Homo sapiens: one gene and its partner. Each later gene encodes a partner of the first gene's protein in a complex. Links are inferred from orthologs where the notes say so. Each region holds a gene or a part of one and is shown in the gene's direction. Other genes may lie near its edges.

Region 1 (15,491 bases):
ATTCCTTCTAAATTTTAAGGGACCAAAAGGATGTGGGCTGGTGGAAAGGAAAGGTTGATCCAAGCAAAGATACTGTCATGTCCAAAGAAATCAAGAACTTTGTTTTGGGTTAGAAGGAGATCTATCTATCTATCTAGAACAGGGCTCCCTGACCTCAGGCTCAGGTTTAGGGGGATCTATGAACGCTGAAACTATATATAAAATATTATGTGCGTGTGCCTTTTTCAAGTGAGACAGTCCATAACTTTCATCAGTGTCTAAAAGGGGATTTCTGCTCTGAAAAGGTTAATAACCTAAATGAATAATGAAAAGTTAGGTTGGTTCGGTTGGCCAATGGGAGGGTGGGTGATAGTTGGGAGACCTTCAGTGCCATATTGAAGAATTTAAAGTTGATGGAATAAAAACATTATCACTTTTTAAATCCCCAAAGTTAAACTATATAACTGTTTCTGCTAATTACTCAGAGAGTAATCACTCAGAAGAGAGTAATTAGCAGAAACAGTTATATAGTTTAGCCTTTTGGACAGGATGATGTTCTACCTGAGAGTTCTGGCTAACTTGTTTGTTCCCCCTAATTTTTTGTCTTTATAGGAAATATTTCTTTAAGGACTCATCAAACTGTGTGCAAACAAGGTCTGTTTCCATCTCTCCCCCTTTTATCATGACATCACTAGAAAGCAGTTTATAGTAGTAATGTCTTTGGAGAAAATAATAAACTACGAAGTCTCTTCCATCTAGGTGCTTTCATTATCTGTATCTGGGCAGGCCCTGACTAGAGAAAAAAAAGAAATTATATTCAAGGACAAAATAGAGACCAGTGTTTGGGCTGGGAAGAACAGAGATTTTATTCTTTAATTTTGAAGGTTGATCATTTGTTACTTTATGAAAAACCTTGTAGCCATTTTTAAATAGTATCTGATCTTGGTCTTTCCCCCTAAAAAAGGCAAGAAAGGTTAAATTCAAAGCTACCTGCACAAATTTCAGACCCATTTTGCCTGAGCTTTTTTGCATTTGTGAAGAAGTGATCAGACTTGACAGTAGAGTTGTTGGGAGAGTTTGAAAGTATGATATGGGTATGGGGTGAAATTGATTTCCAGCTTAATTAAATCTATTGTGAACTTGTTAGTGAAGCAAATCTACATGTTAATTGTTGTAAAGGAGTTCCCCTCAACTCACTTCCATGGGGCTTTGTGTTATTCTCACCGCCCCCTCCCCTGCCTACCATTCCAGTTGCTTACCCACTCATCCTCAGCATGGCAGGCTCGGCCATTCCTCAACAATGACGTTATTTGTCCTTTTAAAATATTCCGATCGCTCATATTTGCTCTCTGTTTCGGACAGCAGTGGAAGGCATTTCAGGAAAAAAAACTGTGTTACTCAAAATAAACATGAAGATAATATTGAGAGGAGTGAAATGAAATAAATTTGCTAGACGGAAAAAGAGAAAAATCCAAAGGAAGGAATGGAAGGCACAAACCCAGTAACATGGTGGCGTGGGTGCTATCTCCAGGTGAACAAGACAGAACTTGCAGGCAACATGGAATCTCATCTCCCATCCCACTCACGTCCTTTCCACTCGGCCCTGCATTCTCTTCTGCAGGTTTGAGATGGCCCACATAGCCAATGTAGAGCTCTTCAGGAGATATTTTTACAGAAAATCCTGATCACATGGCCTCCATTTGTTTATTCTCTTGCCGTTTTTGTTTTTTTTTTTAACTTTTTTTTTTTTTAAGACAGAGTTTCACTTTGTCGCCCAGGCTGGAATGCAATGGCACAATCTGGGCTCACTGCAACCTCCGCCTCCTGGGTTCAAGCGATTCTCATGCCTCAGCCTCCCAAGTAGCTAGGATTACAGGCACCCATCACCATGCCCAGCTAATTTTTGTATTTTTAGTAGAGATGGGGTTTCACAATATTGGCCAGGCTGGTCTCAAACTCCTGACCTAAGATGATCCACCTGCCTTGGCCTCCTAAAGTGCTGGGATTACAGGCATGGGCCACTGTGCTCAGCCTATTTTTTACTTTTTTTAGAGATGGGGTCTTGCTGTGTTACCCAGGCTGGAGTGTAGTGGCATGATCATAGCTCACTACAGCCTTGAACTCCTCTTGCCATTTTTTTTATCCTTAAAATTTCCATGTCTCACTCTCTTGCCAACTGTTCTCTCTCATTTGGTCCCTTGATTCACTCTAAACTCAAACCCTGATAAAGCAGCTGATCGGTGAAGTGTCTGTTGTTACTAAAGTAGAAGTTAGAGGCAGAACAGTGGCAGAGAGCCCTGGAATCTGGCCCTTGGTAGGTGCTCCACAAATGTTTGTTGAACAAATGAATAAGTGGAGCCAGGTTGTCTATGCCCTAGTCCCAGCTCTCTCACATGCGCTAGTGAGAGATATATACATGTATAAAAAAAAATCTCCCTGTGCCTCAGTTTCCTCATCTGTAAAATGGGGAAGATCATTATAGGCTTGTAAATGAAATGAATTAATACTTATAAAATGCTTAAATTAGTCCTGGATCAAAGTAAGCTTTCAATAAATTGTAAGCTCTTATGTTCAAGCTCTCAGAACCAGAATACTCGAGATGCAGACAAAACATTACCTCTCTTAAGAGGTTTGTTGGGGAAAGTATAGCTGGAGTTAAAAATTTAACCTCTTAGATAAGTCACTGTTCAAGCTACTGGTTTTCATCTCCACCATTCCACCTAAATTGCCACCACCTTGCTGAATTAGACACACTTGACCACCCTTCCTTCTTGGCCTAGTGTTTTTCTGGGATTGTCCGTAACACCAAATATTTCTCTAAACTCACTAAACATCTCTTTTTAATTCCCATTGCAAAATCCTTTTTGTTTACCTGTACTTATTTTTTAACTTTCATTTTGAAATAATTATAAGTTCACAAGAAATTACAATAATAATATACTGGGAGGACCCAAGTGTCTAGTGTCCTTCAGTGGTAACATCTTGCATAGCTATAGTTCAGTATCAAAACCAGGAAAAATGCATTGGGAAAACTGCAGAGCTTATTAAGATGTCATCAGTTTTATTTGTACGTGTGTGTGTGTGTGTGTGTGTGTGTGTGTGTGTATGCGTGCCTATGCAATTTTGTCATGTTTAGCTTTGTATAACCACCACTGGAACTGTTTCACTACCACATGGCTCCCTTGTGCTACCTCTTTATAGCTGCAGCTTCTAATCTGTTCTCTGTCTATAATTTTATAATTCAAAAATGCTATGTACATGAATCTGTAACCATTTGGCTTGGCTTTCTCCATTCAGCATGATTCCCATGAGATCCATCCAAGTTGTTGAGATTATCGATAGTTCATTCCTTGTTATTGCTGCATTGTGTCCCATGGTACAGGTGTACCATAGTTTGTTTAGCAGTTCACCCACTGAAGGGCATTTGAGTTGTTTCCAGTTTTTGGCTATTACAAATAAAGCTGTTATGAATATTTGTGCACACAGACATACATTGTGTGAGCATAGGTTTTCATTTCTCTGGGATAAATGCCCAAGAGTGGAATTGTTGGGTCATAAGTTAAATGCATGTTTAGCTTTTTAAGAAACTGCCAAACTATTTTCCAGTGTGGCTGTACCATTTTATATTCCGACCAGCAGTATATGAGTAATATCACTTCTCCACAGCCTTGCCAGCATTTGATGTTGTTTTTACGTTTCACTTTAGTCATGCTGATGGGTGTGTAGTGATACCTCATTGTGGTTTTAGTTGACATTTCTCTACCGGCTAATGATGTGAAAACATCTTTTCGTGTACTTATTTGCTATGTGTGTTATCTTCTTTGGTGAAATGTCTGTCTTTTGCCTTCTCATATAGTTTGGATATTTGTCGCCTCCAAATTTCATGTTGAAATTGAATCCCTGGTATTAGTAGCAGGGCCTGGTGGGAAGTTTGGATCATGGGGAGGATACCTCATAAATCATTTTTATAGTGGCAAGTTCTCACTATATTATTATCATGAGAATATACCATCCCCTCCTTTCTTTCTTCTTCTCTTACCATGTGATGCCTGCTCCCATTGCCTTCTGCCATGAGTGGAAGCTTCCTGAGGCCCTCACTGGAAGCAGATGCTGATACCATACTTCTTGTACAGTCTGGAGAACTGTGAGCCAAATCAACTTCTTCTCTTTATAAACTACCCAGCCTCAGGTATTCCTTTATCGCAGCACAAATAGATGAAAACAGTCTTTTTCTAATGGGATTATTATTTTATTGTGGAGTTTTAAGAGTCCTTTATATAGTCTAGATACTAGAGTGTTGCCAGAGATGTGGTTTGTAAGTTTTTTCCTATTTTAGCATGTTTTTCTTCCTCTTTGCTGCATGTATTAGTTTCCTATGGCTGCTGTAACAAATTATCACAAACATGGTGGCTAAAAACAACACAAGTTTATTCTCTTATAGTTCTGGAGGCCAGAAGTCTGAAATTTTAGTGAGCCCCAATCAAAGTTTTGGCAGGGCCGAATAACTTCTGGAAGCCTGCCTTTTCCAGGTACTGAAGTGACATTTATGACCCATCCCTCCATCTTCAAAGCCAGCAGTGCAGCATTTTCAAATCTCTCTCTCTCTCCTTCCGTTATCACTTCGCCTCTTGCCTTCTGTGGGTGCCTTCAGGACCCACCTGAATTTGGGATAATCTCTCCATCTCAAGATCCTCAACAAATATTTTTTGCATGAATAAATGATTTGTCTCTTCTGTGTACCTTGATCTCTGTGTAATTCTACACTTACCTTAAATAAAATTCTTAGTATAATAATTGCCATAGCTACACTGGTAGTTAGCATTTCCATTCTCCTTAACTGTCCGTCTTCTTCCTGGCTTTCTTCTCTATAGTAGCCTATGGTGCATTTGTCTATATTAACCAAACCTCGGGACTCTTCAAGCCTTTTGAACTTGCATAAACTGGACATGCTTTAACCACTGTCACAGAACTGGGACACAACCGGCCTGTGGATAGTTCATAAAATAGTCCTGAATGCAGTCTTACTGCATCAGATACTGTCTTCTCACATCTCTCCATGCCCCATCTCTGACCCACCAACCAGATGGAGAAAAGAGAGGCCCAGTTTGCTCCTGCTGTGGGCGTCTCCTTTTTCCTCTAATGGCCAAATGAAGAATAAGTGTCCGTTGAACATGGTGGGAATAACTGAGGAAATCCTGTATGCCTTATAATAGGAAGTTGTCACTAGTTAAATAAAGTAGAACTGGGAGTAAGAGACTGGTGCAGGAGACAGAAGACACTGTTTTAACAATGCCTTCAACTTTGCACTTTATATGCCCTATGATGTGTGTAAGTACCTGCACTTAAGTGAGAATCAAGTCTTCCAAAGTCTCTTCAGGGCTGCCACAGTAAGGAATACCTTGCCTTTCTGGAAACAGCTGTACAGCAGTTATATTCTTTTGACTGCATTGAGATGGGAATGAATGTACACTAGTCCAAGGGTTGTACTCTTCCCTTATTCTGACTCTCAGAGGCAGTATCAGGTTATACTGAGGCATAACCTGCCTGCTTAAGCTCTCCGCCTGAAGGTAGAGTTAATTTTCCTAGGGCCCAGAGCTGCTATCATGGGACAAGAAGAAAAACGAATGGCCTGTGATAAAGGGAACTTTGAGAATATAATAATTGGTTTGCCATTCCTGGGATGGTAGTCATGGAAGTGTTCCTAAACTTGTTTTTCTCATTGATTTTTTTCAGTTGAGGTATACTTTATATACAGTGAGATGCACAGGTTGTAAATGTATCCTTCAATCTGTTTTGAATAATGCAAACATCTCTGTAATCCATGTCTTTATCAAGATCCAGAAAGTTTTCACCACCTCAGAAAATTTTTTTGTGTACCTCCCCAATCAATCTGCACATCCTCCTCCATGAAGCAACCACTGTTCCAGTTTCTGTCATTGTAGTTTAGTTTTATCTATTCTGGTACTTTGTGCAAAAGGAATCATATAGTATGTGTGCTTTTGTGTGTGACTTCCTTTACTTAGCATGTCTATGAGGCTCATCCATGTTGTCACAGTATCAGTAGTTCCTTTTTATTGCCGACTAGTATTCCATTATATGAATAGGACACAGTTTGTTTATCCATTTTCTTGTTGATGGCCACCTGTGCAGTTTCAGGTTTTGGCTATTAACATTCTTTTTCAAGGTTTTGGTTCTTTTTCAAACTTTCTTTCTTCTTCTTTTTTTTTTTTTTTTTGTAGACACATATTCCCTTCTTTTAAATACTTAGGAGTGGAATTTTGTTATAGACTGTGTGTGTGTTTACTTTTTAAAGAAATTTCCAAAACGTTTTTCATAATGATTGTGCCATTTTACATAGAGTACTTCTAAACTCTTATTGTCTCACATAGAGTAGAAATTGTGGGACAGGGTGACATCCAGTCTGGTTACCTTTAGCTATTGGGACTCTAGAGGATAATTTCTATAATTTTTAGAGAAGCAAAGGAATTTCAGTGAGGAAAGGATTGTAATAAAGGATCTATAAGTGTTATTTAGTCCCCTACCTTTTTGCAAATATGTATTCTATCTCTGAAAAGACACATAGACCCTGGCACTTCAAGAACAGTGGTCAGTCACAGTCTCCTTTGATCACGTCTATTTCCAATGAGAAGACATCAGGGGCTCTGGACCTATCAAGGGGATTTTTTTTGAGTCTCCCTTAACATGGACACAACACAGAACACGGGCACTAAATACCGTAATGGAACTATATTCCAGAAAAGGGAAGGCTGCACTTCTTTGTTTCAGTCTTTGTACATGTGTATCTTGTTCATGCTGCATCTCTTTCTCTCCTATACTCTCTTCAAGTATGGAGTATTACGTCTTACATTTTCCACTTTGTGTTTCAGGCCAAAGAAGCCCTCGAAAATACTGAAGTTCCTGTTGGCTGTCTTATGGTCTACAACAATGAAGTTGTAGGGAAGGGGAGAAATGAAGTTAACCAAACCAAAAATGTATGTGAGTTGAGCAGTATAATTGCAAACATACAGTAGTGATGGGTGGACTGGAGAGAATTTACCACAGTTGGTGTGAAGGTGAGACTGAATATAGTCCCGTAGCTGCCAGTGGTGGGTAGCTTTTCTTAACGTCTCTCTTTTTCAGTATCATTTTCTTCCTGATTTTGAAAGTGATACATGTTGATTTTTTTTATTGTGGAAAATTCAGAACAATTTAATGAAGCCATAAAATCTTAGTGAATAATTTTCTGTTTCATAGAGTTTTACTCTAATGCTTGAGTGAAACCCAAGAGGGGATTTTATTTCATCAGAATGTCAGCATGGAAGAAACAAGTCTGTCTCTACTTTAAGCCAATCTAATATATGAAATTTTCATTTTATAAAATAGGTCAATTTAACTCATAATACATTCCTTTTTTAGTACCTTTAAATAATATTTTCATCCTAGTAAGTTAAAAAAGTATCCTCAATGTATAGCTTTGGAGGGAGGTATGAGGATTATATAAAGGAAGCTATTCCTTTATCAGATAATTCAACAAAATAGGGTCTTCAACACCAGCTGCCTCTGTAGCTACATGTAGCATGTACATTTTAATAGCTTGTATGACTTTTATTGTGGTTAGGTTGGGAAGTTCATGGTTCAAGGCAATGCTTCTTAAACATGGTATCACAATAGTGTGTCATGATAAGTATACTTGGGAAGTATAAGTAAACTACCAAATTTTATGATTACAAAAATTCCTAGGTGGACTCAAAGATCACTTATACCTGTAATGCCATTCACACAGACTTTTATCTTGTCATATGATTTTGGGAGCCAGAGAATAAGCTGGTGTTGATACCAGGGCTGTGGGAACTAGTTCATCTATCAATCACATCTATTGAAAAGAAAACTGATATTTAGCAAAACACATGTAAAATAGGAATCCAGATTCACAAATCATTTATTTACTTATTTATTTTTAGCCATAAAATAGAACAGGATTATATTTTAATACGTAACTTCTGTACAACCAAAAAAATAAAACACCACAGTAAAATAAACTGGAATAAACATGGTATTTCATTTGCAATGCTTGACAAAATGTTCACATCCTTAATCAGAAATGAGTTCTTAGAAATCAGTAACAGAGAGACTAATATTACAAGGGAAGTGAAAATAAAAGGAACAGAGGAAAATGAAATAACAACCAATAAGGCTACATGAAGATGATCTAACTTAACTTTAACAGAAGAAAAAAGCAATTTCTTTGTAACATTAGATTATCAGTGATTAAAAATACTGATATCTAATGTTTGAACAGTTTTAGGGAATGGGAAACGTTCAAACACTGGGAAAGCTTACATTGATTATAGGAAATTTACTCAAAATGTAGATTTTGCATATACTTCGCCCTAGCAGTTCCAATCAATAGGAACTGTTCCGACAAAGTAGTTGGACAATTCAGATTTATATATAACCATGTTCACTGCATAGAAAATCTGTAGTTAATATGTCAGCCCCCCAAAAAAACTTTTTTATCAATTTGCTTATGAAAAATAGTAGATCGAAGTGTAGAATTAGAAAGAAAAAAGACACTTAAATAAAAATATAGTATTTCACAAAATTCTTTGTCCTTTGAATTCTTGAAAAAGACAACTTTTTAATGAATCAGTTTTAAATTTACCCTGTAATAAGTGAGAAGCATGAATATATGTAAGTCATACTTTTAATTTTTATTTATTTATTTATTTTTTTTACTATGGAAATGCTTTAATAGAGGTGAACACACAGCAAGAACAGCAAGTGCCCACACAGACATGACTATCACAGAACACATTGTGGGCAAATGAAGAATTCATACCACCCCCGCCCTTAACCCAGTAACAGAAGGCTCTACGCCCCCATTTCCTCAGTCCACTCCTCAGACTCTCCCTCCTCCTCAACAGTGGCATCCTGATACTGTTGGTACTCTGATACCAGGTCATTCATGTTGCTCTCGGCCCCAGTGAATTCCATCTCATTCTTGCCCTCGCCCATGTACCAGTGCAGGAAGGCCTTGCACCTGAACATGGCTGTGAACTGCTCTGAGACGTCTCTGAGCAGCTCCTGGATGGCCGTGTTGTTACTGATGAAAGTGGTGGACGTTTTTAGTCCTGCGGATGGGATGTCCCAGAAAGCTGTTTTCCCATTGTAGGGGATCCAGTCAGCAAAGTAGCTGCTGTTCTTGGTTTGGACATGAAGCATTTTCTCCTCTACCTCCCTCATGGACATCCAGCCCCTGAAAATGGCAGCCTCTGTTAGATAGAGGCCATACTGGGGGTCATAGGCAGCCATCATGTTCTTAGCATCAGACATCTGCTGGGGGAGTTCAGCCACTGTCAGGGCCTTCTTTGTTGTTTAAATGCTCATTTTGAAATACCTTTTTAAAATTTCAAATACAGAAAGTAGAAGCAGTTCTATCTCATTTCTCTATGCAGAACTATTAAAATTTTGCCATATTCTTCCAGACAGTTTTCTTTCATATAAATCATGTAACAATATACAAATATATACAGTCTTTTAATTTTAACTCACATGTGCAATAATTTCAAACAATGTTAAAATAATTACCATTATAACACTGAGAAGTATTATAACTGCCAGGGTAGTCATTCCCATATAGAATTAACATTTTTAAATTAGCCGTTACCTTTTCAGTTAGAAAAAAACAGAAGCATGTACACATACCTCTGCAAACAATTAGCTGATGTTTGTTGAAAAATGACATAATTTTAAATATCAATTTAAAATACTGTAAAACATACAAAAATTCTTTTTGAAAAAGATGTTTTGAAGAATTTTTAAAAATGTTTTAATTACATTCATGTTGAATCACAAAGCAGTTATTAAGAGGATATTAAAACATGAGATAAGTAATAAACATAATACAGCAATTAATGAATGTATAGATACTTATTTAGGAGTAGAATTCTGTATTTTAAATCGTGGTCAAATTTTCCAATTTGCATTTTGTGTATGATGTCTTAAGATGAGAACTTTGACTGTCCTAACAATACCCATCTAACCCCATCCAGTGACCGGGGTTTCTTCTATATGCTGAAATTAACCTGGGTTTATTTTGTTATTCCGTGTCATAAAGAAGATTACTCTATAACTACAGCATAGAAAGACTCTTGACCCCAAATGAGAAGACCTGAGTTCTACTTTTGGATCTGATACCACCACCACTACCCAGTCGCCACCACCACCTCCTCTCCCAGCTGTATGTGATTAACACATGCCAGCTTTGCTTAGCTTCTTTTTCTTTAGTAGTAAGAGAGTTGACTGAGATGATTGAGTTCAGCAATTGTTTATTGAGAGCTGTAGGGAGATTTGATTCCATAATTCTAAATCTGATTTTTTGAAAGCACCTAAGTTGGGGAAACCTTTTTTTTTTTTTTTTTTTTAAACTCTCCACTTAGTTTTGGTGTGCAGCCAGGTTTGGGAACCTCTTCTGTAAAGTACCTTCCATCTCTGGTAATTAGTTCTGTGATTCACCCATGTAGCCCCTTGGCCAGCTCTGCTCCCATCTGCCTCTAGCTTCCATGGCATCTTGGGCCACTGTGCTAGCACTTTTCATACCCTGCCCTATCTCACAGGTAAATGAGCCCTACCAGATTTTATGCTTGTTGAGGACAGAGACTTTTTATCCTACACAGAATTTATTTAGCCCAGTGGCTTGTGCATGGTTAATACTCAGTGTAAATTATTGATAAATACTATTGTCATGAATATTATAAATAATTATTCCATATAGAATCTATGATTCACTTTAAGCTATTTTAGTAAGGGAGAAAGAAAAGGAGACAAGAGCTAGCAGAGTACATGTGTAGTATTATGTGGCACCATGCTTCATGTAATTCAGATTTATAAGGTTTATAAGTGTAGATACCAGTGTATACCATTTTACATATGGGGAATCCTAGACTTACAGAAGTTAAGTTACTTGCGTAAGTCCACATAATTGGTAATGTCACTGTCAAAATTCAAATTTAAATGGAGTCACTTCCACATGCTATGTGATTTCTCCTATCCTCTACTGCTTCCCATGAAGTGTCTGAAACCAATACCAAATCTCTACTTCTCTAGAGTCTTCCAGTATATAAAACCTCATTCCCCAAAAGTGTAAGAGATGACATTCCAGTGAACTTAATGTAGATTTGCTTGGAGTGAGGTCAGTGACAGCCTTGAAAATATATTTGAAACTAGAGCACAAGCTTATGAAAATTTTGCTTCCCCTGAAATATTCAGAAACCATAGACTTTATCTTTTTTTCTTTGTTTTTTAGACTTACCTTCTCCATGGCATTTTAATTGAAAGAGTTTTCCCTAAGGTACTTAGGTACTTAACTAAAAATACAGCATGATTCCTGTGGCATCTCTGATTAGATATCTTTCGCAAGTGAGGTTATGGTACTTGAATTGGGGAATACGTTGTCCACTGCTAAGGGTGTCTTGAAACTGTATTCATTAAAATATTGGCAGAAAGGATAGGCGCATATTTTGTACTTAGTTTTTGTATATTTGTAAAATAGTAGTCACATGAAGCAAACAGCATCAGTGCAAGCCCCTTTCTCTTTTCAGGCTACTCGACATGCAGAAATGGTGGCCATCGATCAGGTCCTCGATTGGTGTCGTCAAAGTGGCAAGAGTCCCTCTGAAGTATTTGAACACACTGTGTTGTATGTCACTGTGGAGCCGTGCATTATGTGTGCAGCTGCTCTCCGCCTGATGAGTATCCTTTGACTTCATGAGTTAATGTATCGTACCATTCGTGTGAACAAGAGAGTGGCCAAACACGTAGCCTGTTTTCCAAAATATGAAAACACAGACTTAGGAAACACCTTGTAAAATATAGTGTGTCTTAGCCAAAAAAAAGAAAAGCTTTTTAAATAGTAAAATGACCTATTTCTTTTCATATCAATAAACATGGAATGATTAAACAAATAATCTAGAGAAAGAAAATATTAGAACTGTCTTAAACAGTTATATAAAGGTAAATCATAAATTAAGTTGAAGTGGATTATAAAACAGTTTGCAAAGGAAAAGTCCTAAAGAATATGCAGCTAAGTTTTGCCTTTGGATAATGGATTATGAGTGGTTTAAATTTTTTTTTCTCTGTTTATCTGGTTGGTTTGTTTGCCATGAATACTAATGTATCAAACATTATCAGTAAAAAGTAAATAAGAAGTAAGAAATCCTTTATGATATTCTGATTGTAAATGGAAAATGAGTAAAGTTACAGCTCTTTGGATTGTCTTGCATGGATTAAGCAACTTAAATAGTGCAGAGACTCTGTAGGGACTTCTAAAGATCTTTTTAAAAAATTATTTGAAAATTGAAAAACTCAGCTTTTTAGTTCCTTATTTTTTATGTACTTATTTTACTATGTACGGATGGATAATTTTAACACTTTAAAAATAATACAGAGGTTTTTGGGTATGATAAAATGTACAGTCTCTATAAAAGGGTTGTTATAGGCAACTTAGAATTCTCTCCTCATCCTGCCTTACAGAGTGGCTAAGCTTTAGTCTATTTTGTATTAGGGCACAGGTTATATTTTATTTGGGGCAAGAACAGGGAAGAATCTTTTATTTCTAAAAGGTGAAAATCCCTGGATTAAATTTCTGCATCCTTTCTGGTTCTGACTCCCTAATGATTCTGAAAAAGTGATTTAGGAAAGAGCAGAGAGAGCCCTGAACTGTGAACTTTAAGCAAACACATACTCAGTTTTCATTCTGTTTGCAGTTGTTAAATGTCAATTTCTCAATACTTTAACCCCTTTTCTTCTGTGTAGCTGGATTGTATGGTTTATAAGACGAATCCTAAGCTTCACTGGTTTGAAGAGTAGCATGAGCGTTCCTCTCCAGGATGGCTGGTATAAACCTACTCTGATTTTGTCACGATACATACTTGAAATGTACATTCTATGCAGGACCTTAATTCTGTCTTATAAATCCCGCTGGTTGTATATGGCTGTCAGAATGAACGATTTGGTGGTTGTGGCTCTGTTCTAAATATTGCCTCTGCTGACCTACCAAACACTGGGAGACCATTTCAGGTAATACAAACTGCTTATGCTTTTTCTTTCTTGCTAATTATTTTCATCTCTTTATGGGCTTGTGAATAACTAGTGTGTGGCCAGTATACGAAGAAACGATGATAGAATCAGACATCTTTGATCTCAGGGCCTCTGGTGGAGTTCATTTATGCCTCAGTATAAGATGACAGGGAAGAGTTTCTAGATGAGTGCCTACCTCTCTTCATTAACAGACTCCCTCCTGAAGGAGAGTCCACCCTTCGCAGCTGACTCCGAACACTCTTCACCAACACCGTTAGGTATGCCTGAAGACACTCTCGCTGTTGGAGTTTTTATTCAATGAACGTTACCAGCTCTATGCTCTACCAAGTTTGGTGATGCTTGGCCTGTGTCAGTGACGCTAGAGACTATTTACAGCACACACAATATTTTTGTACAAATTTAATCATTTTGCTTGATTGCCACATCCTTATTTTAGTATCTAGCAATCACTGTATTTTCATGTCTTTTTTTGTGTGTCTTTTTAATGTTGAAATTTCCCCCAGACTTAAGAATCCATGTCTTTAGTCTCCTAGAAATTCTCCTTTCCGTTTAATCTTGCCACTTCTCCCAAAGTTTTTATGGGTCAGACTATGAACAAAAGGAATTTGTATTTCAGAGTTTGGCCTGTGACTATACCCCTACTTTCATTAATTGGTTTGATTGTTTTTCTCTCCAAGATGTAAGGTTAATGTAAAAGTATTGTGCTTTAAAAAGAAAAAGCTTTAACAGATGCTGGATATGGCTGGGCAGTTCACTTCAAAAACCTCAGGGGTTCCTAGAATACTTTAAGGACCTATGAAGGACTAAATTTGGCTGAGTCTCACTGAGAACGAGTTTTTAAAACGTTCTTGAGTTTTCTAGCTCAACATTAGCTTTCCTATCAACTTCTGTGCATTTGAGAATAAATGCTGTTTAACATTACATCAGAAAAGAAATTGTAATGCAATGATGGAGAGTAAAGGATACAATTGGTTTGATCATTAAAGACATTTAGAAAGTGATTTGATTTTTCCAATCACTTCTGTTAGTAGCTCAAATTTTGCTTACATAACTCTTTGCAAATGAATTGCTGACTCCATATTTCCTTTATGAGAATGATCTAAATAATTTTTCAGTTTCTGGGCAGAACAAAGATGAGTCTTTTGATGTCATACATGGGTGGAATATTTCTCTCCAACATGTCAGTGACATGAGGGCACAAACACAGTCCTTTCTCACACATCTTTGTAGTCGATGCAGCAGAACCAAAACAAGTTCATTTGCAGTGTATATACCTAGCCACATCGGCTCAGCTGCAAATCAATGCCTGTGGCTTGCAGCCATATCTCCAGGCTGAATGCCAAATTATGGTTTTTTTAAAGGTGCTTTTAGATTCTAAGGAGAACAGTGGTGGCCCAGGCTCTGAATGCTGGGTATTCTTTTTTTTTAATTCGTCTGGGCTTAGGAGGCAGCAGGTGATTGGGAGGTGGGATACTGTTTCTTACTGCAGAATTGCAGATTCTTTTCATGCTGTATTATAAGCAGCATTAAAATTTCTAGAGGCCTACAGAACTATTCTTTTCAAAGAAGATGGTGATTAATTATAACACCTGCTCTGTTTTTTAAAATTTTTGTTTTATGGCTGGGTGCAGTGGCTCATGCCTGTAATCCCAGCACTTTGGGAGGCCAAGGCGGGCAGATCATGAGGTCAGGAGATCGAGACCATCCTGGCTAACATGGTGAAACCCCGTCTCTACTAAAAATACAAAAAATTAGCCGGGCATGGTGGCGGGCGCCTGTGATCCCAGCTACTTGGGAGGCCGAGGCAGGAGAATGGCCTGAACCCGGGAGGCAGAGCTCGCAGTGAGTGAGCCGAGATTGCGCCACTGCACTCCAGCCTGGGCGACAGAGTGAGACTGTCTCAAAAAAAAAAATTATTATGAATGTTTGCTTTTTATTAACACCACAAATTTGTTGCTATAATGGATACTTGAAAATGTAAATAATATATTATATTGGTGTGTTAGGGCGGTGCAGTTTCCTTCGAGGCCTGTAACTCAGCAGTTCTCATCCCGGACTGCCCGTTAGAATCACCTGGAGGCTTCTGTGCCTGACTCTGCTCAGTCCCTGCCCCAGACCATCTGAATCAGAAGGCAGGGGGCCAACAGTGCTGTGTTTCCAGAGAGTTCCAACTGGTTCTCCTGAGCAGCAATGGTTGAGAACCACTGCTCTCATCCCACGTAAGAGGAGAGGGCTCTGAGTGTGCGAGTGGAGTGGAGGGGGACCTCTGGGGAGCTCCAGCACTTAACACAGCAGGAAGCAGGGGGCAGCTGTGACGGGACTGGCTGGCAGTGGTTAGGATGGTAAAATGCTGAGAAGCCAAGGGAGGCAAGAGCGGTCAGACAGAGCAGGTGTGGCCAGTTGCCTCCAGGACT
Region 2 (16,190 bases), on another chromosome or scaffold:
AATGGCACATGAGACGTTTCACACTGATGGATAGGACCCTGCAGGGAGGATTCCTGGAAGAGGAGGTCCCATGAGAAGGTCCATGCTGCTGTGTTCAGAAAGCAATCCTGGGTCTCCCCCTGAGAAAACCCCCCACAGAGGGACCGAGATAGATGATGTGGGAGAACAAGGTACTGGGTGACTTTTTTTTTTTTTTTTTTTGAGTAGGAGTCTCACTCTGTCATCCAGGCTGGAGTGCAGTGATGTAATCTTAGTTTACTGCAAACTCCGCCTCCCGAGTCCAAGCAATTCTCCTGCCTCAGCCTCCCGAGTAGCTGGGATTACAGGTGCCCGCCACCACGCCCAGCTAATTTTTGTATTTTTAATAGAGACAGGGTTTCACCATGTTGGCCAGGATGGTCTCGAACTCCGACCTTGTGATCCACCCGCCTCGGCCTCCCAAAGTGCTAGGATTACAGGCGTGAGCCACCGCGCCCAGCCATAATTTTTGTATTTTTAGTAGAGACAGGGTTTCACCATGTTGGGCAGGCTGGTCTAGAACTCCTGACCTCCAGTGATGTGGCTCTCTTGGCCTCCCAAAGTGCTGAGATGACAGGCGTGAGCCACAGCACCTGGCCTAAAACTAGATTTCTCTTTTTTTTTTTTTTTTTGAGACAGAGTCTCGCTCTGTCGCCCAGGCTGGAGTGCAGTGGCACGAGCTCGGCTCACAGCAAGCTCTGCCTCCCAGGCTAAAACTAGATTTCTAAATAAGCTTTGTGATTAAATACTAATATTTATACTTTTCAGCATATACTTACAAGAATGGGACTGGGCGCGGTGGCTCATACCTGTACTTCCAGCACTTTGAGAGGCCGAGGCGGGCAGATCACGAGGTCAAGAGTTCGAGACCATCCTGGTCAAGATCGTAAAACCCCATCTCTACTAAAAATACAAAAACTAGCTGGGCGTGGTGGTGCGCACCTGTAGACCCAGCTGCTCAGGAGGCTGAGGCAGGATAATCGCCTGAACCCGGGAGGCGGAGGTTGCAGTGAGCCGAGATTGTGCCAATGCACTCTAGCCTGGGCGACAGAACGAGACTCCGTCTCAAAAAAATAATGGAAAACAGGGATTTCCATAGATATTTGCACACCTATGTCAGTAGTACCTTGATTCCCAACAGCCACAAGGTAGCAACAGTCCCAGTGGCTATGGACAGATGACTGGGTGAACACAGCATGGCCTATACACACGCTGGAATAGGAGGCAGCCATGAAAAGGAGCGAGGCCGGGCATGGTGGCTCACACTTGTAATCCCAGCACTTTGGGAGACCGAGGCAGGTGGATCACGAGGTCAGGAGATTGAGACCATCCTGGCTAACACGGTGAAACCCCATCTCTACCAAAAATACAAAAAATTAGCCAGGCGTGGTGGCGGGCGCCTGTAGTCCCACCTACTGGGGAGGCTGAGGCAGGAGAATGGTGTGAACCCGGGAGGCGGAGCTTGCAGTGAACCGATATCGCGCCACCACACTCCAGCCTGGGAGACAGAGCGAGACTCCGTCTCAAAAAAAAATATATAATATAATATAAAAAAAGAAAAAAGAAAAAAAGAAAAGGAGCGAGGCTCTGACTCAGGCCACAACGCGCGGATGCACTTTGAGGACGTTACACTCAGCGGGAGGCGCCAGACACAAAAGGACACGTCTTGTGTGATCCACTCCTAGGAGGTCCCTCGAGTCCTCAGATTCACAGAGACACAAAGTAGGATGGAGGCCGCCAGGAGCTGGGGAGGGGAATGGGGAGTGAGCGTTTCATGGGGCCAAGTTTCAGTTTGCAAAGATCAGAAAGTTCTGGAGGTGATGGTCGCACAACCGTGTGAATGAGTTTAATACGGCTGAACTGTGCACTTAAAATGGTTAAGAGGCCGGGCGCGGTGGCTCACGCCTGTAATCCCAGCACTTTGGGAGGCCGAGGCGGGTGGATCACGAGGTCAGGAGATCGAGACCATCCTGGCTAACACGGTGAAACCCCGTCTCTACTAAAAATACAAAAAATTAGCCGGGCGTGGTGGTGGGCGCCTGTAGTCCCAGCTACTCGGGAGGCTGAGGCAGGAGAATGGCGTGAACCGGTAAGGCGGAGTTTGCAGTGAGCGGAGCTTGCGCCACTGCACTCCAGCCTGGGCGACAGAGCGAGACTGTCTCAAAAAAATAAATAAATAAATAAAATAAAAGGGTTAAGATGGTCAACTTTATATTATGCGTATTTTACCACAACCAAATAAATCAATGTTCATAAAACCACGGAGTTAGACGAGCTGTTTGGTTAGCGCCAGCTTCGCAGGCAGAGGCCTCAGGGGTCCGCTGGGGACCCACACTCAGAGGAATCTAGGCATGATATAATGCTCTGTGGTTGCTGTCTCAAAATTCCTAAAAATTGGCTGGGTGCGGTGGCTCACTCCTGTAATCCCATCACTTTGGGAGGCCCAGGCGGGCGGATCAGCTGAGGTCAGGAGTTCGAGACCAGCCTGACCAACATGGTGAAACCTTGTCTCTACTGAAAAAACAAAAATTAGCTGGGCGTGGTGGCGCATGCCTGTAGACCCAGCTACTTGGGAACCTGAGGCAGGAGAATTGCTTGAACTCAGGAGGCGGAGGTTGCAGTAAGCTGAGATCATGTCACTACACTCCAGCCTGGGCGAGAGAGCAAGACTCCGTCTCTTTAAAAAAAAAAAAAAAAAAAAAAAAAAAAAAAAGGCCGGGCTCGGTGGCTCACGCTTGTAATCCCAGCACTTTGGGAGGCCGAGGCGGGCGGATCACCTGAAGTCGGGAGTTCAAGACCAGCCTGACCAACATGGAGAAACCCCGTCTCTACTAAAAACACAAAATCAGCCGGGCGTGGAGGCACATGCCTGTAATCGCAGCTACTTGGGAGGCTGAGGCAGGAGAATCGCTTGAACCCAGGAGGCAGAGGTTGTCGTGACTCGAGATAGCACCATTGTATTCCGACTGGGCAACAAGAGCAAAAAAACTGTCTTAGAAAAAAAAAAATTCTAAACATTTTTAAACAAGGGGCCCTGTATTGTCATTCTGAGCTTGGCCTCAAAGATTCTGTAGCCAGGCTTCTTTTGGGGAAAGGACCGGGAGGCCTCCTTCCAGGGTCAGGGGCGTTAAGCGCTGCGGAGGGATACCCCTCCCAGAGGGGAGAGAGTGGAACCCGCTCAGGAAGTGGGTTCCTGACATGAGAAGGAAGGAAGTTGGCGGGGGCATCTTAAAATAGCATCACCCAACCACGCGGTCAGAGGTGCGGGGAGGGAGCAGGGCCAGGGCCGGGGACCCTCCCAGCGACCTTCCCTGCAGGCACCCAGCCCCGTCCCCTCGACACACCAGACCCAGCACCCTCTGCTCCCACCAGCCCACCAGGAATTGGGTTATTTAAGTTATTTATTTATTTCCTTATTTTCTTTTTCTTTTGAGATAGAGTCTCACTTTGTCACCCAGGCTGGAGTGCAGTGGCGTGATCTCGGCTCACTGCAACCTCCACCGCCTGGGATCACGCGACTCTTCTGCCACAGCCTTCTGAGTAGCTGGGATTACAGGCGCCCGCCACCAAGCCTGGCTAATTTTTGTATTTTTAGTAGATACAGGGTTTCACCATATTGGCCAGTCTGGTCTCAACTCCTGACCTCAAGTGATCCACCCGCCTTGGCCTCCCAAAGTGCTGGGATTACAGGCGTGAGCCACCGCGCCTGGTCTATTTCTTTTTTTTTTTTTTTGAGATGAAGTCTTGCTCCCTCGCCCAGGCTGGGGTGCAGAGGCACAATCTCGGCTCACTGCAACCTCCGCCTCCCAGGTTCAAGCGATTCTTCTGCCTCAGCCTCCCAAGTAGCTGGGATTACAGGTGCCCGCCAACCACACCTGGCTAATTTTTGTATTTTTAGTAGAGACAGGATTTCACCATGGTGGCCAGGCTGATCTCAAACTCCTGACCTCAGGTTATCCGCCCACCTCGGCCTCCCAAAGTGCTGGGATTACAGGTGTGAGCCACCGCGCCTGGCTGTAATTGCCTCTTAAAGAGAAACAAGTCAGATTGGATTTGGGCGCACCCTCAGGACGTCATTTGAACCTAATAATCTCTTTAAAAAGTCCTGTCTCGGCGGGGGCCAAGCACAGTGGCTCAAGCTTGTAATCCAAATACTTTGAGAGGCCAAGGCAGGAGGATCACTGGTGCCCAGGAGTTTGAGACTAGCGTGGGCAACACAGCAAGACCCCATCTCTACAAAAAAAAAAAAAAATATTTGGTTAGCCAGGTGTCGGGGCACATGCCTGTGGTCTGAGCTACTCCGGAGCCCAATGTGGGAGGATCCCCTGAGCCCAGGAGTTTGAGGCTGTGGTGAGCCGTGATCAGCTCCCACTGCACTCCAGCCTGGGCCACAGAGAGAGACTTCCTATCTCCACGCCAAGTGCCTTAGGTCACGCCTATAATCCCAGCAGTTTGGCAGGCAGAGTGGGAGGATCACTTGAGCCTTACAAGTTCAAGACCAACCCGGGGCTGGGCGCGGTGGCACACGCCTGTAATCCCAGCACTTTGGGAGGCCGAGGTGGGCGAATCACGAGGTTAGGAGATCAAAACCATCCTGGCTAATACGGTGAAACCCCGTCTCTACTAAAAATACAAAAAATTAGCCGGGCGTGGTGGTGGGCGCCTGTAGTCCCAGGTACTCGGGAGGCTGAGGCAGGAGAATGGCGTGAACCCGGGAGGTGGAGCTTGCAGTGAGCTGAGATCACGCCTCTGCACTCCAGCCTGGACCACAGAGCGAGACTCTGTCTCAAAAAAATAAAAAAAAAATAGCCGGGGGTGGTGTCGGGAAGCTGAGGCAGGAGAATGGCGTGAACGCAGGAGGCGGAGCTTGCAGTGAGCCAAGATCATGCCACTGCACTCCTAGGCGACAGAGCGAGACTCCATCTCAAAAAAAAAAAAAAAAAAAAAAAAAAAAAAAAAGACCAGCCTGGGCAACTAAGAGAGACCTCTGTCTCTGCAAAAAAAAAAAAAAAATTTTTTTTTTGAGACGGAGTCTGGCACTGTCACCCAGGCTGGAATGCATTGGCGTGATCTCAGGGTTCACGCCATTCTCCTGCCTCAGCCCCCCGGATAGCTGGATTACAGGCGCCCACCACCACACCCGGCTAATTTTTTGTATATTTAGTAGAGACGGGGTTTCACCGTGTTAGCCAGGGTGGTCTCGATCTCCTGACCTCGTGATCCACCTGCCTCGGCCTCCCAAAGTGCTGGGATTACAGGCGTGAGCCACCGCACCCGGGTGACACTCCATTTTTGACCCCAGTGTTAGCACAGAGCTTTTAAACTTCCGCACTGCTGATGAGGGAGTGTGATTGTTCTCTGTTACCAGCACTGTCTCCCGCCCACCGGAGCCGAGTGTGGTGGGTGTGGACCTTCTGGGAAAGGGTGTAAACACGTGCTTAGATCCGGCCGGAAGCCCCGTGACCGGGGTGCAGCTGCCTTTGGTCAGTAGGTGGCAACCGTGTCCGCTTGATTTTGGGAGGGTCCGAGAGGCTGGTGCAGGGCTCCCAGGAGAGGCGGGGGCGATCCCACTTGCCTTGCCAGGATAACAGCAACAAGGGCTGCCCACGTGCATGCTGGGCAATAGGGATACCGCAGAGAATGAAAGTCCAGCCCTAGCAGGGCAGCAAGACCTCGACTCTACAAAAATTTCAACCACAACAAAAATTAGCTGGGCGTGACGGAACACATCTGTGGTCCCAGCTACATGGGAGGCTGAGGTGGGAGGATCGCTTGAGCCCGGGTGGCAAAGGCCACAGTGAGCTATGACTGCACAACTGCACTCCAGCCTGGGTGACAGAGGCAGATCTTGTCTCAAAAAAAAAAAAAAAAACAAAAAACAAAACAAAAACACCAAGGCCAGGCACGGTGGCTCATGCCTGTAATCCTAGCACTTTAGGTGGCTGAGGCGGGAGGATCACCTGAGATCAGGAGTTCCAGACCAGCCTGGCCATCACAGCGAACTCCCATCTCTACTAAAAATCCAAAAATTAGCCAGGTGTGGTGGCAGGCACCTGTAATTGCAACTACTCAGGAGGCTGAGGCACAAGAATCGCTTGAACCCGGGAGGCGAAGGTTGCAGTGAACCGAGATGTCACTGCACTCCAGCCTGGGGGACAGAGTGAGACTCCATCTCAAAAACAAAACAAAAAACACCAAAACGTCCTGTCCTGGTGGAGGTGAAATAAATGAGACATCCTTGGCCGGGCGCTGTGGCTCACGCCTGTAATTCCAACAATTTGGGAGGCCAGGCGGGTGGATCATGAGGTGAGACCGAGACCATCCTGGCTAACATGGTGAAACCCCGTCTATACTAAAAATACAAAAGTTAGCTAGGCGTGGTGGCAGGCATCTGTAATCCCAGCTACTTGGGAGGCTGAGGCATGAGAATCGCTTGAACCCGGGAAGCACAGGTAGCAGTGAGCTGAGATCGTGCCACTGCACTCCAGCCTGGGAGACAGAGCGAGACTCCGTCTCGAAAAAATATATGTATAGCCAGGCGTGGTGGCTCACGCCTGTAATTCCAGCACTTTGGGAGGCCGAGGCGGGCGGATCGCTAGGTCAGGAGATCAAGACCATCCTGGCTAATGTGGTGAAACCCCATCTCTACTAAAACTATAAAACAATTAGCCGGGCGTGGTGGCGGGCACCTGCAGTCCCAGCTACTCAGGAGGCTGAGGCAGGAGAATCGCTTGAACCTGGGAGGCGGAGGTTGCACTGAGCCAAGATTATGCCACTGCACTCCAGCCTGGGTGACAGAGCGAGAGTCCGTCTCAAAACAAACAAACAAACAAATCAGAAAGTTAATGGGATGCTGACGCAAAGAAACAAGCTGAACAAGGTGGTGACAGGGAAGTTGATACTGATTTTGGCCTCAGCCATGTGGAAACAGACAGAGGGTCTTGCGGGGAACTCCTCTCCTTTTTTGGACGCATTCCTGTTTTGTTTTGTTTTGTTTTGTTTTTTTAACTTTCTTAATTTTTTTCAGTTTTCGTCACACTTTGTCTAATACTATTTCTTTTTTGTTTTTGAGACAGAGTTTCGCTCTTGTTGCCCAGGCTGGAGTACAGTGGCACAATCTCAGCTCACTGCATCCTCTGCCTCCCAGGTTCAAGTGATTCTCCTGCCTCAGCCTCCCGAGTAGCTGGGACTACAGGTGCCCGCCACCACGCCCGGCTAATTTTGTATTTTTAGTAGAGACAGGGTTTTTCCATGTTGGCCAGGCTGGTCTCAAACTGATCTCATGATCCGCCTGCCTCGGCCTCCCAAAGTGCTGGGATTACAGACATGAGCCACCACGCCCTGCCTAAAATATTTGTTTTCATAATTAAAAACATTGTTTCTTAGCCAGGCCCTGTGGCTCATGCCTATAATCTTAGGACTTTGATTTTTTGTTTTTGTTTTTGTTTTTGAGACGGAGTTTCCCTCTTGTTGCCCAGGCTGGAGTGCAATGGTGCAATCTTGGCTCACTGCAACCTCTGCCTCCTGGGTTCAAGCGATTCTCCTGCCTCAGCCTCCTGAGTAGCTGGGACTACAGGCATGCGCCACCACACCTGGCTAATTTTTCGTATTTCTAGTAGAGACGGGGTTTCACCATGTTAGTCATGTTGGTCTCGAACTCTTGACCTCAGGTGATCCACCCGCCTCAGCCTTCCGAAGTGTTGGCATTACAGGCGTGAGCCACTGTGCTGGCTTTTTTTTTTTTTTTTTCTGCGACGGAGTCTCGCTCTGTCACCCAGGCTGGAGTGCAGTGGCGCCATCTCCGCTCAGTGCAAGCTCCGCCTCCCGGGTTCACGCCATTCTCCTGCCTCAGCCTCCCGAGTAGCTGGAACTACAGGCGCCCGCCACCACGCCCGGCTAATCTTTTTATTTTTTTTAGTAGAGATGGGGTTTCAGCGTGTTAGCCAGGATGGTCTCAATCTCCTGACCTCATGATCCACCCACCTCGGCCTCTGTACTTTTTTCCTATTGGCTGGGGTCGGGTCACACAATCTAAACTAACTTTGGTTGGCTAAACATTTGATTTTTTTTAGATAGGGTGGGTATGTAAAAGAAAGGGGAGGCCGGGCGCGGTGGCTCGCGCCTGTAATCCCAGCACTTTGGGAGACCGAGGAGGGCGGATCACGAGGTCAGGAGATCGAGACCATCCTGGCTAACACAGAGAAACCCCGTCTCTACTAAAAATACAAAAAATTAGCCGGGCGTGGTGGCGGGCGCCTGTAGTCCCAGCTACTCGGGAGGCTGAGGCAGGAGAATGGCGTGAATCCGGGAGGCGGAGCTTGCAGTGAGCGGAAATCGTGCCACTGCACTCCAGCCTGGGCAACAGAGCGAGACTCTGTCTCAAAAAAAAAAAAGAAAGAAAAAGAAAGTGGAGAGAATGGGGAAGGGGGTGTCTGTGATGAGCTAGAAAGTTAGTCTTTTTTTAAAATAAGGAAAGGAATGTAAGCTGATGCTGATAACGCTTGGTATTGAGGCGTGTCTAGGCATTTAACAAAGGCAAAAAGGAAAAAGAAAAAGAAGGGAAAGGAGGGGTACTATGAATTAAAGAATAAATGATTGATCAGATTATTTGAAGAGAAACCCCATTATATCCCACAACTAGAACCCCTGGCCTGAAGTGGTCCACCCGCCTCGGCCTCCCAAAGTGCTGGGATTACAGGCGTGAGCCACCACTCCCAGTCTTATTTTTATTTTATTTTGTTTTGTTTTGTTTTATTTATTTTTTTAGAGTCTCGCTCTGTCACACAGGCTGGAGTGCAGTGGCGTGATCTCAGCTCACCGCAACCTCCACCTCCCGGGTTCAAGCTATTCTCCTGCCTCAGCCTCCTGAGTAGCTGGGATTACAGGCGTGCGCCACCACATCCGGCTAATTCTTGTATATTTAGTAGAGACGGGGTTTCACCATGTTGGTCAGGCTGGTCTCAGACTCCTGACCTTGTGATCCACCCACCTCGGCCTCCCAAAGCGCTGGGATTACAGCTGTGAGCCACCATGCCTGGCCTATTTTTTTTTTCCTTTTTTTTTTTTAGACACAGTCTCCATCTGTCACCCAGGCTGGTGTGCAGTGGCGCAATCTCAGCTCACTGCAAGCTCCACCTCCTGGGTTCACGCCATTCTTCTGCCTCAGCCTCTCGAGTAGCTGGGACTTCAGGCGCCCGCCACCACGCCTGGCTTTTTTATTTTTAGTAGAGACGGGGTTTCACCATGTTAGCCAGGATGGTCTCGATCTCCTGACCTCGTGATCCGCCCACCTTGGCCTCCCAAAGTGCTGGGATTACAGGCGTGAGCCACCGTGCCCCGCCCAGGCCTATTTTTTTAAAGACAGGATCTCCCTCTGTTGCCCAGGCTGGAGTGCAGTAATGCTGATCAAAGCCCACTGCAGTCTTGACCTCTTGGGTTCAAGTGATCCTGCCACCTCAGCCTCCCAAGTAGCTGGGACCACAGGCACACACCACACCTGGGTAATTTAAAATTTTTGTGTAGAGACAAGGTCTCACTATGTTGCCCAGGCTGGTCTCAAACTCCTGGGCTCAAGCGATCCTTCCACCTTGGACTCTCAAAGTGCTGGGATTACAGGCGTGAGCCCCCGAGCTTGGTCCTGGTCATTTCTTGACTGCCTGTCACTTGGGGCCACCCAGCCCGCCAGTGTCTGACTTAGGCTTCTGGCTGATTCTCTGCGGCCACTAAGCTCACAATTGGGGAACCGACTCCATGATTTTGCAACATTTCGATGCCGGACCCTGACGCATTACTGTGAGTCGGGAGGGTCACGTTCCGTTTGTTTTTTGAGACGGTCTGGCTGTCACCCAGGCTGGAGTGAAGTGGCATTGGTGTGATCTCAGCTCACTGCAACCTCTGCCTCCTGGGCTCAAGCCATCCTTCTGCCGCAGCCTCCCGGCATGTAGCTGAGACTACAGGCGCCACCATTCCCAGCTATGTTGTTTTTTTTTTTTTAAAGAAAGAGACAAGGTCTCGCTGTGTTGCCCAGGGCAATTTCAAAATTCCTAGACTCAAGCAATCCCTCCGCCTCGGCCTCCCAAAGTCCTGGGATTACACTGGGATTACAGGTGTGAGCCAGCACACCGGCTGTGGGCCACATTACTTTTGAAAAGTTCTGGATAAAGGCCGGGCGCGGTGGCTCATGCCTGTAATCCCAGCACTTTGGGAGGCCGAGGCGGGCGGATCACGAGGTCAACAGATCGAGACCATCCTGGCGAACATGGTGAAACCCCCGTCTCTACTAAAAATACAAAAAAATTTGCGGGGCGTGGTGGTGGGCGCCTGTAGTCCCAGCTACTCGGGAGGCTGAGGCAGGAGAATGGCGTGAATCCGGGAGGTGGAGCTTGCAGGGAGGTGGAGCTTGCAGTGAGCTGAGATCGCGCCACTGCACTCCAGCCTGGGCGACAGAGTGAGACTCCTTCTCAAAAAAAAAAAAAAAAAAAAAAGAAAGAAAAAGAAAAGTTCTGGATAAAGAACAATGTCAATTAAAAAAGGGGTCCCATCAGTAGAGGCTGAAATCATGACTGAAACTAGCTTAAAGCCCAAAGCAAAACAAAAACCCGAAAGAAGGCCAGGCATGGTGGCTCGCACTATCCCAGCATTTTGGGAGGCTGAGGCAGGTAGATCACCAGAGGTCAGGAGTTTGAGACCAGCCTGGCCAACATGGTGTACTAAAAAATACAAAAATTAGCCAGCTGGAGCGCAGTGGCGCAATCATAGCTCACTTCAGCCTTGACCTTCTGGACTCCAGTGATCCTCCCACCTCGGCCTCCTGAGTAGCTGTCCCAGCTGTCCCACTTACTCAGTGCCCCTCCGGACCCAGCAATTCTTTTTTTTTTTTTTTTTGCAGAGATGGCAGCATGTCTCAAACTCCTGGCCTCAGGCAAACCTCATGTGTCAGCCTCCCAAAGTGCTGGAATTACAGGCACGAGCCACCATGCCTGGCCTAGATTCATTTTTTTAGATGCAGAGAATCTGGGCTTTGGATTTAATGACTTACCAAATAAAGGCTGTCTTTTTTTTTTTTAAAACAAATCAGCAAAACAGGGGCTCTTGGCTAGTTTGCATGAGGCATCCAGGGATGGAGAGATGTGTATTTAAGCTAAAAAAAGAAAAAGTGAAACTCACAGCAGTCTGAGTTTTTATTCAGAAAAGGAAAAAAGAAAGCAACTGAGAGCGAAATAGTTTCCTGGAATGCTGTTTTTTTTTTTTTTTTTTTTTTTTTTTTTTTTTGAGATGGAGTCTCACTCTGTCGCCCAGGCAACAGAGTGCAATGGTGCGATCTCAGCTCATCGCAACCTTCGTCTCCCGGGTTCAAGTGATTCTCCTGCCTCAGCCTTCCCAGCAGCTGGGATTAAAGGCCCCTGCCACCATGCCTGGCTAATTTTTGTATTTTTAGTGGAGATGGGGTTTCGCCATGTTGGCCAGGCTGGTCTCGAACCCCTGACCTCAGGTGATCCACCCACCTTGGCCTCTCAAAGTGCTGGGAGTACAGGCATGAGCCACCGCATCCGACCTTGAAATGCACTTTCTTTGAAACACGTCCTCCCCTTTCTCACCATAAACTCCCTCACACTCTGCAGGTTTACCTAACTGTATGCATCTAATTATGTGATTACCTAAAAGTTCCAGGAACAGGCTGGGCACGGTGGCTCACGCCTGTAATCTCAGCACTTTGGGAGGCCGAGGCGGGCAGATCACCTGAAGTCAGGAGTTTGAGACCAGCCTGACCAACATGGAGAAACCCCATCTCTATTAAAAATACAAAATTAGCCAGGTGTGGTGGCGTGTGCCTGTAATCCCAGCTACTCGGGAGGCTGAGGCAGGAGAATCACTTGAATCTGGGAGGTGGAGGTTGCGGTGAGCTGAGATCGTGCTGCTGCACTCCAGCCTCGGTGACAAGAGCGAGACTGTCTCGAAAAAAAAGAAAAAAGAAAGAACGTTTTAGAGCTAATCTGGAGACAGGCCAAGCACGGAGACCCACCTGCAAAATCCCAGAGATTTCCTCAAGGTGGTCTGCAACCCGGCCCTTATTAGGATGAGGCCAGCCTGCGCTTTTAAGCCACCAAAATTCATGAACACACAGAGCTTATAATCAGCACCTCCCCTGCACACCCACCATTCCCAGTTCCCCTTTTTTAGCCCCTCACCCCAGCCTCAAGTTTGAAGGGGTTTCTGGAGGCCTAAACCAGCTGCCTCCCTGCTGCGAACTCTGAAAGGAAGTCACCTTCCTTTCACTGCACTTTTTCCTCCTTACTGGTTTGTCAAGACTCTGGCATCGGAGCCTGAGCTGGTTACAGCCAGGCACTGTCAAGCTGTTGGGGGAGGGGATGACAAATTCCCTCCCGTTGAGAACCACTTGGTTAAACCTGTCCAACTGGAAGGAGTAACAAATTGCTCATAAAATATGCATGTTTTGGTGAAACCCCTTCTCTACTAAAAGTACAAAAACTAGCCAGAAATCGCTTGAACCCAGGAGGTGGAGGTTGCAGTGAGCCTAGCACTGCACTCCAGCCTGGGTGACAGACTGAGGCTACGTCTCAAAAAAAAAAAAAAAAATGTGCTTGTTTGGCCCAGGAGAGGCAAGAGGTCTTCTTCACCTACGTTACTGGTGAGAAAACTCAAACCTGAGGGCGGCCCACGCCGGAGTGCAGTAACAGGCAGAACTGGAACCTGGCCCCATCCCGGACTCAGGGGACGGGTGTCATATACCCCCTCTGCCTCATCCTTCCCACTCTGCTAACCTTCCAAAGATCCCCCGGGTTCCGAGTTTTCCCTGGCCGCTTGATGGGATTCGAACCTGCAAACTCAGCGCTCGCCCAGCGCAGCGGCCCCGCCTCTCCTCCCCTCCCGCCGCCCGGAGGTCATGTGAGCGCAGTGCCGGAGCGGGGCGGGGCGAGGCGGCGGCGCGCAGTGCCTACTAGCAATTGTAGTCCTTGCCCCACCTTGGCCTGGCGAAGATCCCGCCCCTGGAACTACGCTCCCGTCGTGCTCCGCGGCTCCAGGCGGAGACGAGGCGGGGTGAGGTGGGTTGGGCCGGGCCGGTTGCTAAGACTTGGCGAAGCGCTGCGCTCGCGCCCGGATCCCTCAGGTAAGCGCGCGGCCCCGAGGTCTCGGGTTCTCCAGGCTCAGACTTCCCCAGAGGGGGAGTAGGGGCTGACATGGGGGGTCTCGGCGGTGAGGGGCGCCGGCCGTTTGTGGGGAGAAAACGGGGGGCCCAGGCCAGCCTCGCGCGCGTCTCGGGCGGGCCGGTGGGCGACGCGGGGAGGCGGCGCGAATGCGCGTGCGCGCGCGCGCGCGGCGCTGGCCTGGGGGAAGCCTCAGGACCGCGCTCCCCCGGGCCTAGCGCCTTTCTGCGCGTGTGCGCCCTTATGGTCGGTGCGGGAGACCCCGTATCCTCCAGCTGCTTCCGGTGGCCCTTCCTCAGGTCATGTCCCGCAGTCCCCTGCCTCTGAACCGCGCTCTCGCGAGTTTCCGTAGCCTTCGCGTCCTTCCTCCCCAGCTCTGATTCGCCTTTATGTGGAGATTCCCCTAGGCCTTGGTACATCCCCAGAATTGACCATCGTTCCTCATCGTTACCTAGAGTATGAGTTTTTCAGGTTTTTGTATCACAGGCCCCCAGTTATCTCCCACACACTACCCCGAGGACCGAGGTTCCCCGCTGTCTTGCAGAGAAGGCCTCCTTGTAGGGTGGCCAGAAACAGAGGATCGACTCCGTGGAAACAAGGACGGCTGGGTGCAGTTCCTCACCCTATAACCCCAGCACTTTGGGAGGCCAAGGCGAGTGGATCACCTGAGGTCCGGAGTTCGAGACCAGCCTGTCTAACATGGTGAAACTCCATCTCTGCCAAAAATACAAAAATTAGCTGGGCGTGGTGTCACGCGCCTGTAAAACCAGCTACTGGGGAGGCCAAGGCAGGAGAATCGCTTGGACTTGGGAGGTGGAGGTTGCAGTGAGCCAAGATGGCACCATTGTACTCCAGGCTGAGCAAGCTAGCAAGACTCACTCTCCAAAAAAAAGAAAAAAAGATTTTTTTTTAATAAGCCAGGCATGGTGACACATGTCTGTGGTCCCAGCTACTTGGGAGGCTGAGGCAGGAGGATTGCTTGAGCCCCGGAGGTTGAGGCTGCAGTGAACTGTGATGGCACTACTGCATTCCAGCCTGGGCAACAGAGCGAGACCCTGTCTCTAAATAAATAAATAAAATACATACGTGTAGCGCCGGCCGTGGTGGCTCACGCCTGTAATCCTAGCACTTTGGGAGGCCAAGGCGGGTGGATCACGAGATCAGGAGATCAAGACCATCCTGGCTAACACGGTGAAACCCTGTCTCTACTAAAAATAAAAAAAAGCCAGGCATGGTGGTGGACGCCTGTGGTCCCGGCTACTCCCAAAGGAGGCTGAGGCAGGAAAATGGTGTGAACTCAGGAGGCAGAGCTTGCAGTGAGCCAGGATCGTGCCACTGCACTCCAGCCTGGGCGACAGAGTGAGACTCCGTCTCAAAAAAAAAAAAAAATTGTGTGTGTGTGTGTGTGTGTGTAAAGAAACAAGCCCCAGGCTGGGCGCAGTGGCTCACGCCTGTAATCCCAGCACTTTGGGGGGCCTAGGCAGGTATATCACAAGGTCAGGAGTTCGAGAGCAGCCTGACCAATATGGTGAAATCCCACCTCTACTAAAAATATAAAAAATTAGCCAGGCATAGTGGTGCACATCTGTTGTCCCAGCTGCTTGGGAGGCTAAGGCAGGAGAATTGCTTGAACCAGGGAGGCAGAGGTTGCAGTGAGCCAGGATCGCGCCACTGCCCTCCAGCCTGGGGGACAGAGTGAGACTGTCCCAAAAAAAAAAAAGCCCCCACGCAGACTATTGGTGTGCCCTGGAACTGAGCATTAGCTGTTCCCTCTCCGAGTTCTCTCCCCTACTTCCCCAGCCTTCCAGGCTGGGCTGTGGGTCACTGCCTCCGAGGAGCCCTCCTGGATTCTGCTGAAGATGGTCAGGCCCCTCCATCCCCCCATTTTCTCTTATGTACCTGACAGCCCTGCCTTAAAAAAAAAAAAAAGGTAGAGCAGGAATTCCCATTTCACAGGGGTGGAAGCCGAGGCTTGGAGGAGTCAGGACTGGTGCCTGAGTTCTCGCAGTCAGGAATTGACCGCGCTGGGCTGAACGCCTCTAGGGCAGGTTGGGGACTGGGTGTGTTTTCTGGGTGGACATACCCAGGTCCCGGCGCGGACCTTGGCCTCCTCATCTGTGGGCTTAGATAAAGGCCTCCCAGCCTCCTGTTCACCAGGGTTGTCACCACGCAGGGTCTGACTCACCTGCCTGGAGCTATGCCGGTTCCCAGCCCAGGCTGGCGGCCGTGTTCTGCTGGGACCTGGGACCTGGGCTGCCTGCCCTCCTGAGGGGTCCCAGTGGTCGGTCGCCTGCCTTCTGGGTGGGTGTGGTAGAGGGAGGGTCAGGTGGCCCCCTGCTGTTGGGGGGCAGTCGCTGTGGGAGTGAGTCGTCCCCCCGGGCCATAGCAGGTAGGTAGGAGGTGCTCTGGCAGTTGAGGCCGCCCTGGCCTGGGACAGTCAATCAGCCTGAACACTGTGCCTGTTCCGGGATTTTGACCTGCCCTCCAAGGGCGCGGCGGGCCCAGCCTGCAGTGTCCCGGCAGCTGCCTCCTCTCTGGGTCGTTTGTTTTTCATCAGACAGAGGTTGTACTCTTGGAGGGACAAGCGAGGCTGTGTTTGTCTTTTACCCTGGAGACAGTGGAGTGTTTGTGGCCTAGCAGGGCCGTGCGGGCCTCTCGGTCCTGGTCGCGCGTGGTGTGCGTTTTGGGAGGGCCCAGCGAGTCGGCTGCTATGGGCCCCACCTGGCACGGGGCCTCGGGCAGCGGCAGCACCTGGCGCTGCCTCCGCGCTTCCTGCTCCCGGCTCCCACTGCATCTCCGGTTCTGTGCTTTGTTGAACGCGTGAGCTTCGGGCAGCGCTGGGGCCGCTTCAGCGTGACCTCCAAGGCCACTGGCCTGGAGTTCCACTGGCTGCTGGTCCCCCATCTGTGGGGCGCCCCGGCGGCTGAGGCGTGGACCAGGCAGTGCATGTCGAGGAGTAGCACCCACAGCTGCGCGGCTGCGAAATGATCCAGAGACACATCCCTG

What was found.
Region 2: the proteins of ADAT2 (region 1) and ADAT3 are in contact, whole or in part, in a crystal structure (PDB 9HMM), measured with the Mus musculus proteins. The link is inferred for Homo sapiens from one-to-one orthologs. Residues at the interface, in NP_080024.3 of Mus musculus: Val62, Asn63, Lys66, Asn67, Ala68, Thr69, His71, Met74, Ile77, Leu81, His85, Pro91, Cys107, Ile108, Met109, Ala112, Ala113, Leu116, Met117, Arg130, Phe131, Val137, Leu138, Ile140, Asp144, Leu145, Pro146, Asn147, Thr148; in NP_001094076.1 of Mus musculus: Val217, Ala218, Pro220, Leu221, His223, Ile229, Asp230, Ala233, Gln236, Gly237, Glu270, Ser272, Pro274, Val276, Val290, Met291, Met294, Ala295, His298, Ala299, Pro311, Asp312, Leu318, Phe319, Val321, Arg324, Asp326, Leu327, Asn328, Pro349.

Annotation. Positions count from the first base shown.
Region 1 is NC_000006.12:143,430,070-143,445,560, reverse strand, and holds part of ADAT2 (tRNA-specific adenosine deaminase 2), read left to right. Parts: intron 1-591; coding exon of another isoform or gene 592-633; exon of another isoform or gene 634-4,112; coding exon of another isoform or gene 4,113-4,123; exon of another isoform or gene 4,124-4,168; intron 4,169-4,420; exon of another isoform or gene 4,421-4,508; intron 4,509-6,866; coding exon 6,867-6,971; coding exon of another isoform or gene 6,972-6,975; intron 6,976-11,579; coding exon 11,580-11,730; intron 11,731-12,949; coding exon 12,950-13,056; intron 13,057-15,491. UniProt on the Homo sapiens protein: Probably participates in deamination of adenosine-34 to inosine in many tRNAs.
Region 2 is NC_000019.10:1,892,293-1,908,482, forward strand, and holds the start of ADAT3 (probable inactive tRNA-specific adenosine deaminase-like protein 3), read left to right. Parts: upstream 1-13,106; 5' UTR 13,107-13,147; intron 13,148-16,190.